Linked DNA regions of Homo sapiens. The protein of the gene in region 2 purifies or fractionates together with the protein of the main gene of each other region. This does not show direct contact. Each region holds a gene or a part of one and is shown on either strand. Other genes may lie near its edges. The genes, in order: CEP164 and CELA1.

The links.
Region 1: the proteins of CELA1 (region 2) and CEP164 purify together in Homo sapiens (affinity purification with mass spectrometry; 2 studies listed by BioGRID and IntAct, with this or other methods). This does not show direct contact.

The regions. Positions count from the first base shown.
Region 1 is NC_000011.10:117,330,575-117,334,386, reverse strand, and holds part of CEP164 (centrosomal protein of 164 kDa), read right to left. Parts: intron 1-3,812. UniProt on the Homo sapiens protein: Plays a role in microtubule organization and/or maintenance for the formation of primary cilia (PC), a microtubule-based structure that protrudes from the surface of epithelial cells. Plays a critical role in G2/M checkpoint and nuclear divisions.
Region 2 is NC_000012.12:51,343,751-51,348,139, reverse strand, and holds the start of CELA1 (chymotrypsin-like elastase family member 1), read left to right. Parts: upstream 1-1,460; 5' UTR 1,461-1,501; coding exon 1,502-1,517; intron 1,518-2,262; coding exon 2,263-2,345; intron 2,346-4,286; coding exon 4,287-4,387; intron 4,388-4,389. UniProt on the Homo sapiens protein: Serine proteases that hydrolyze many proteins in addition to elastin.

The DNA.
Region 1 (3,812 bases), on a different chromosome or scaffold from region 2:
CCTTCTTTCCTTACCTTATCAGGCTCTAGAAAAGATGTGGGCAAGGACAGGTCCAAAAGGCCAATGAGTTAAAGAAAAAAGGAACGTGGGAACAGAAGTCATATCTATTTGTCTGTATGTAGTAGCAGGATGGCTACTAAAGATCATCTACTCACTCGAGGAATATTTATTGGGCACCTACCACGTGCATTTATTTCTAGGCGCTAGAGATGCAATCGTGATTAAAAACAGATTCAGCTGCTGCTACTCTTGAGCTCGTCTGGGAAGGGAGGGAGACAAACCAATCAGTCACAGAGAAATGTATAATTAGAACCGAGGGAAGTGCTCTGAAGGAAATAAGCCTGATTTAGATGATGCCTACACTGAGAACTGAATGATGAGTAGGTATTCACTAGACAAAGAAAAAAAGGAAAGCGTGTTCTAACAGATGCATGCAAAAGTCCTTCAGCAGAAGGCAACACGAGGCAAGAAGCAGCACAGTTGGATAGGATGCTGGGGAGGCCAGTGGGAGCCAGGCCATGCAGACTTGCCCTTTATCATAACAGAACTAGGGCTGGGCACAGTGGCTCACACCTGCAATCTCAGCACTTTGGGAGGCCAAAGCAGGAGGATCGCTTGAGCCCAGGAGTTCAAGACCACCGTGAGCAACATAAGACGACCCTGTCTTACCCTGTACAAAAAAAATTAAAAATTAGCCAGGTATGGTGGTGTATACCTGTAGTCCCAGCTACAGGGGAGACTGAGGCGGGAGGATCACTTGAGCCCAGGTGGTCAAGGCTGCAGTGAGCCTTGATTGTGCCACCACACTCCAGGCTCAGTGACAGAGCAAGACCCTGTCTCAAAAAAGAGAGAGGAATGGAAGCCAGGAAATAGTTTTTCCAGATACACATTTTGAAAAACTACTCCAGAAGCTACTAGGAGTACACCCTAAAGCGGAGGCCAGATTGGAAAGAAGAAAATCAGGGCTGATGCAGAGAAATAAGGTAGAAAACCATGAGCTAGGCTAGGTAAGAGGCAATGGTAACCTGAGTTGGAGTGGTAACAGAGGATGAGAAGTCTAAGAATGCAGCCCTTGGGCCAAGCACTGTGGCTCACACCTGTAATAACAGGGCTTTGGGAGGCTAAAGCAGGAGGATCACTTGAAGCCAGGAGTTTGAGACTAGCTGGGTCAACATAGTGAGACCGTCTCTACAAAAAATTAAAAATATCAGCCATGCATGGTGACACACACCTGTAGTCCCAGCTACTTGGGGGGCTCAGGTGGGAGGATCCCTTGAGCCCAGGAGTTCAAGGCTACAGTGAGCTATGATAACACCACTGCACTCCAGCCTGGGTGACAGGGCAAGACCTGTCTCTAAAATAAATCAATAAATGAGAATGCAGCCCTTAGATCTGCCATGGCAAACAAATAGGACATGTCCTACTATTTTCCTCCAGGCCTAAAACTGTGAAGGACATCACTAGTCAATTATGGCACCCTAGACATGGCCTCAGAACCCTCAACATTGTTCACTACGTAGCAGTTACCAATAGATGAGATGAAATCCAGTGAGATCTACTTGCTGCCTAGCCTGAGACCTTCTGTGAGCCAGAGTTAGGAGGGGTCACCCAACTGCACTCATGCATCTCCTACCAATCTCAGAATCAGGCAAAAAAGGAGTGGCTCACACGTTTCCTCCAGGAAGCCTTCCCAGCCAATTTTATCCTCTCCTGTCAACCCAGAACCACCTTAGCACTGAGCTCATAATTTTCATGTGTTCCCAGACAGATTTCTCTCAATATTATTATTTTTTCTTTCTTTCTTTTTGAGACAGAGGAGTTTCGCTCTTGTTGCCCAGGCTGGAGTGCAATGGTGCGATCTCGGCTCACTGCAACCTCCGCCTCCTGGGTTCAAGCGATTCTCCTGCCTCAGCCTCCTGAGTAGCTGGGATTACAGGTATGTGCCACCACGCCTGGCTAATTCTGTATTTTTTTAGTGGAGATGCAGTTTCTCCATGTTGGTCAGGCTGGTCTCGACCTCCTATCCTCAGGTGATCCACCCGCCTCGGCCTCCCAAAGTGCTGGGATTACAGGCGTGAGCCACCGTGCCTGGCCAATATTACTTTTTTTATGAAAATGTGTCTTCTTACCTCTCCTGTTAAACCACAAACTTCTGAGGGCCATGTCTCCTCCTCTGGAATTTTCCAACAAAGCCTAAAATAAGCCTATGTAAGCTGTCGGAGCTCAGTTACTGCTGTAACTGCTAATATAAAACCAAGGAATAGGCCGGGTGTTGTGGCTCACACCGGTAATCCCAATACTATGGGGGACCAAGGCCTAGGATCACTTGAGCCTAGAAGCTCAAGACCAGCCTGAGCAATATAGTAAGACCCTGTCTCCACAAATATATATATATATATATATATTAGCCAGGCATGGTGGCGTGCACCTGTGGTCCCAGCTACTCGGAAGGCTGAGGCAGGAGCTATGTGATCAGATGGAAAGGAAGACAGAGTTACATAAAGAGTGTAAAGTGGGGAGGCAGAGGTGGGAGGATCACTTGAGACCAGGAGTTCGAGGCTGCAGTGAGCTATGATTGTACCACCATACTCCAGCCTGGGCAACAGAGTGAGACCCTATCTGAAAAAAAAAAAAAATACACCAGCAATCTCAGAAGCTAGGAAGACCCGCAGTAGTTTTGGTCCACCTTCCTTCCCATGCCAAAATTTTCCTCTCTGTGCTTCCAGTGACAGGCGGCATAGTGGTCAAAGTACCAGCTTTGGAGACAGAAGACCTGGATTCAAATCCCAGCTCTCTCACTTAGCAGCTGTATGACCTTAGGCAAGGTGCTTCACCTCTCTCAGCCTCAATAACTGCATGTGTATAATTAAAACAATCTTAACAAAAATCAAAAAGCCTGAAAGTAAAATGAAACAACACTTATAAAGTGCCTAGCACAGTCCCTGTATACAGAAAAGTTACACAAATTTAGCTAGTATTACAGATTCTATTTTCAATTCCATAGTTAGATAATTCTTAACTATTAGAAGGTCTAATAGTAAGCCAATAATCAGGTTCTAAAAAAATGTTCCCTGGTATCTCAAGTCTGCCTTCTGCTCATCTGGGGACACCCTAGGATTCTCTAGCTAAGGTAGGCTAAGTATTCCCAGTTCTCTTCCATTCAGTACATATCGTTTCCCAGTCCTTCAATATTGTGGCTACCTTGCCCTGTACTTTGTCAGCATAGCTAGAGTTTTGCACATCTGCACACTAACAGAGAATATACACTCACAGACATAATGAGGGTTCTCTGTATATTTATTTCTTCCACCCTGCTCCAACAATTACAAAGAAGGTTGACCACAGAAAAGATTGACTGGAGAAGGTAAAGGGGAGAAGGTGGAAGATGTCAGAGTTGATTACGCAGTGGTAATGAGCAAAAGCTTTGGAACATTCTTGGCTTTCAATCCCAGCTCTGCCTCTTACTAGCTGGACAGCCTCAGTTTTCTCATCTATAAAATGAGAGTACTAACAATATCCATCACAATGTGTTGTGAGGCTTATATGATTCAATACATGTAAAGTGCTTAAAATATACTAAGGTCTCAATAAATGTTAGACATTACATTATTATGACTGCTATTCACCTATTTAAAAGGGTTTATTCTACCTTGCTCCAAAGGACATATCCAGCACCAGGCAATATAAGTTAAGGCCATTCAGACATTAAGTAATCACTTTTTCTTTGCTTTTTTTTTGAGACAGAGTATCATTCTTGTCACCCAGGCTGGGGTGCAATGGCACGATCTCTGCTCACTGCAGCCTCTGCCTCC
Region 2 (4,389 bases):
CTCTGCTCTGGAGCCTGCAGTGGCTCTGATCATTTTGTGGCCAACCCAAGGGTCCTCTGCCCACCTCAAGGCACATTGCAACTCTTTTCTCTCTCTATTTATTTATTTATTTATTTATTTATTTATTTATTTATTTATTTATTTTGAGACAGAGTCTTGCTCTGTCTCCAGGCTGGAGTGCAGCAACCTCCGCTTCCCAGGTTGAAGCGATTCTCCTGCCTCAGCCTCCAGATTAGCTGGGACTGCAGAAGCGCACCACCATGCCCAGCTAATTTTTGTATTTTGTTTTTGTTTTTTTTTAGATGGAGTCTCGCTCTGTCGCCCAGGTTGGAGTGCAGTGGCGCGATCTCGGCTCACTGCAAGCTCCGCCTCCCGGGCTCACGCCATTCTCCTGCCTGCGCCTCCCGAGGAGCTGGGACTACAGGCGCCTGCCACCACGCCCAGCTAATTTTTTGTATTTTTTTAGTAGAGACGGGGTTTCACTGTGTTAGCCAGAGTAGTCTCAATCTCCTGACCTCGTGATCCGCCCGCCTCCGACTCCCAAAGTGCTGGGATTACAGGCATGAGCCACCGCGCCCGGCCAATTTTTGTATTTTTAGTAGACGGGGTTTCGCCATGTTGGCCAGGATGGTCTCGATCTCTTGATCTTGTGATCCGCCCGCCTCAGCCTCCCAAAGTGCTGGGATTACAGGCGTAAACCACCGCGCCCGGCCGCAACTCCCTTCTCTCTCCTCTACGAACTGTGATGAACAAAGCCTTTCATCTCCTGCAGGAACCTCGGCTCCTACCCTCGTTCTCCCTCTGCCCTCCACCCTCCATCTACCCTCATAGCCCTCAGACTGTCTTCACATCCCAAGGATCCCCTCCTCTACCCTGCCTCATATTCTCCTCTGGGAGCCCCTTCTTGGCTCTCCATCTGAGAGGGCCCAAGCCTGTTTCTCAGTACTTTCCTCCCCCAGAATTATCTCCACTGCATCTATTTGGCTTTTGTGTCTGCATTTACACCTATGCCTGCATCCTGGGGGCATGTGCCATCTCCCTCTTTGGGCAGAGAGAGTTGCTGTGTCTTCCTTGCCCTTGCTAACCACTCCCCCCTCTTCCACTATCCCCCTGGCCTCCAGCTGCTAGTGCACAGGGCAAGTCTCTGCATTTATGGTGCCACTGAGGACAACGAGAGAGTGATGGATGACAAGGGGTGCTCCCTTAGAGAAAAACCAGCCCTGGTTCTCCATCTTATTTCTGAAAAAGAGTTTGTTGGATGCTTTTCAATTAAAAGCAGATGATTAATTCAGCCCTGGCCTTGTTCTGTCTTTGAATAACAGATACATTAGTTTACTTGAAAAGAAATATTTTCATTTGTATTTCCATGTCACTTGTGATTTTCCCTGCCTTGCACCCTCAGCCCTGCCAGTTGGCAAGAAGACAGTCAGCTTTGCTGCTAAGAGGAGTATAAAGAGGGCTTGGTCCAAGCAAGAAGGCAGTGGTCTACTCCATCGGCAACATGCTGGTCCTTTATGGTAAGTGGATATGGTCCAGTCGCAACCCTGGTCCTTTATGGTAAGTGGATCATGTGGCCTGAGGTCTATAGGGAGGGGGACTTGGGCAGGAAGGTCAGCAAATTTTCCCTAAGTCCAGGCCAGCACCCTGTCCCAGGGCAGGTGGGACGCTCTGCCTGCAGAGCGTCCTTTACTCTCCTGGAGGCCAAGATAGAAAAGGTCAGGGCCACTGGCTATTCAGGCCCCTCTGGGTGGCAGGTCCCTGGGCCACAAAGCAGAGAGAAGCCCCATCTGGTAGTGGGGTGGGTCCCTGGGCTTCCCCACCACCCCCATTGACAGGAGGACTTCCTCAGCAGGTGCCTGGCTGGGGTGTGCACTGCAGGCCCTGAACCCTGGAGAATCTTGCCAAAGCATTAGGGGGCTGGTGGGGGTCAAAGAGTGGGGGGGGGTCTCTTCAGGCCAAAGGGTGATCTTGAGCAAAGAGGAGACCACAAGGAGCCTCTGGGGCCTAGCCTGGTGGTTTGAGAGAGGTCCTTCATAGCATGCCGGAGTTCTGGGAACACCTGGGGGAAACAGAAGGCACCCAGGCACCCCTGTTTTCAAAAGGGGCTCAGAGAACTCACAGCTGGGCCCCTCATTCGTTAGAGAGGAACTGTGAATTTGCAGACAAGGCTAACATTCCTCAAAGCACAATCGCCACCCCCCACCCCTACCCCTGGCTGACCCCATGCTTAGTCATCACTCACTTTTCTTCTGCCCCACAAAGGACACAGCACCCAGGACCTTCCGGAAACCAATGCCCGCGTAGTCGGAGGGACTGAGGCCGGGAGGAATTCCTGGCCCTCTCAGGTGGGTGTTCCTTCCCAGCCCCAGACTTCCACCCAAATAAGAGCTCAGTGCATGACATAAGGTATCATGTGTATTTGTGCATGTCCCTATCAACAAGCAGCTCTCCAATTGTCTAGGTTCTCGATTTTAAAGATGGATGGGATCAGGCTTAGGTGGTTTTCTAAATGCAAAAGGCTTGGAGGAGGGGATTTATACACCAACCACAGTCCCTCTTCAAGGCACACACCCAAACACAAGATACATTTATATTCTCAGCGACAGCACTTGTGCCACGCAAGAAAGACTGGGTGCCAGACAGTCACCTTGGACTCCACATACCTTGAAACTCACACGCACACCACTCCACACTGTGTGTGTCACAATGCTTGCACGCATGTGCGCGCACACACACACACACACACGTACAGCATGCTGCTTAGTTGGCTATTTAGAGTTTCCACTTTGCTAACAGGGCAGCTGGGCCCTGATTTAAGTGATCTAAATATGTAAACCTGGCAAATTAACTGATGAAGATCCACACTTTGAGAAGATATCACTGCAATCAGAGTTTTAGCTTATAAAAGTCTGAGCCCCAGTTTTCAGGAGTAGAGCTATTACATAACATGAGGTGCTAGAAGAAGAGACATGAACTGATAAAAACAAACATCCTATTGGTATTTTTTTTTTTTTGAGATGGAGTTTTGCTCTCATTGCCCAGGCTAGAGTGCAATGGCATGATCTCGGCTCACTGCAAACTCTGCCTCCTGGGTTCAAGCAGTTCTCCTGCGTCAGCCTCCTGAGTAGCTGGGATTACAGGCGCCTGTCACCATGCCCAGCTAATTTTTGTATTTTTAGTAGAGACGGGGTTTCACCATGTTGGCCAGGCTGGTCTCAAACTCCTGACCTCAGGTGATCCACCCGCCTCAGCCTCCCAAAGTGCTGGGATTACAGGCATGAGCCACAGCGCCTGGCCTCCCATTGGTATTTCTAAGTAGTCCCTGAAGTGGGGAGACAGGAGATGTCTTGAAAACACTAAAGGTACAGCTCTGGAGACCTAAGCCTGTTGGGCTTAGGTGATGGAGCAAATCTTTGCCTATAGTTCCTCTTTTTTGGGGGAGGAGAGGGGGCGATGGAGTCTCGCTCTGTCACCAGGCTGCAGTGCAGTGACGCTATCTCAGCTCACTGTAACCTCCACCTCCTGGGTTCAAGCAATTCTCCTGCCTCAGCCTCCTGAGTAGCTGGGACTACAGGTGCATGCCACCACGCCCGACTAATTTTTGCATTTTTAGTAGAGATGGGGTTTCACCATGTTGGCCAGGATGGTCTTGATCTCCTGACCTGGTGATCCACCCGCCTTGGCCTCCCAATGTGCTAGGATCACAGGCGTGAGCCATGGTGCCTGGCCTATAGTTCCTCTTTAAGGGAGAACAGAGGTAGAAGGAGTTCCAAAAAAGGAGTTACAATGGGTTCTAGGTCCATTGCAACAACCTAGAGAGATAATGCCAAATACACTGTGTGCCTTTACTCCTCCATCCATGTACACAGCAAACATCACCAAGCGATGGAGCATCCCTTCCTGCTGGCCCCAGAAGCATCTACACACCCCTTATCAATGCCACACTCCAGGTGGCCACTACCAAGCAATCAGTAGCAATTGGCAGGTCAGATGAAACCTATTTGCCATCTCTAGCCTAGAAAGAGAATGTTTTGAAGGACAGCAGGACTTTAAGGAGGTGACATGTAGTTTGAGGCAAAGTCTTTTATATTTAATTATTTTTGACGTTGTAGAGGCGAGGTCTCACTATGTTGCCCAGGCTGGTCTCCAGCTCCTAGGCTCAACTGATCCTCCTGCCTCAGCCTTCCAAAGTTCTGGGATTACTGGCATGAGCCACTGCAACCGACCTGGGGCAAAACCATTTGAGAAACACCAACCTATCCCTTCTTTCTTTCCTCCCCATCTAGATTTCCCTCCAGTACCGGTCTGGAGGTTCCCGGTATCACACCTGTGGAGGGACCCTTATCAGACAGAACTGGGTGATGACAGCTGCTCACTGCGTGGATTAGT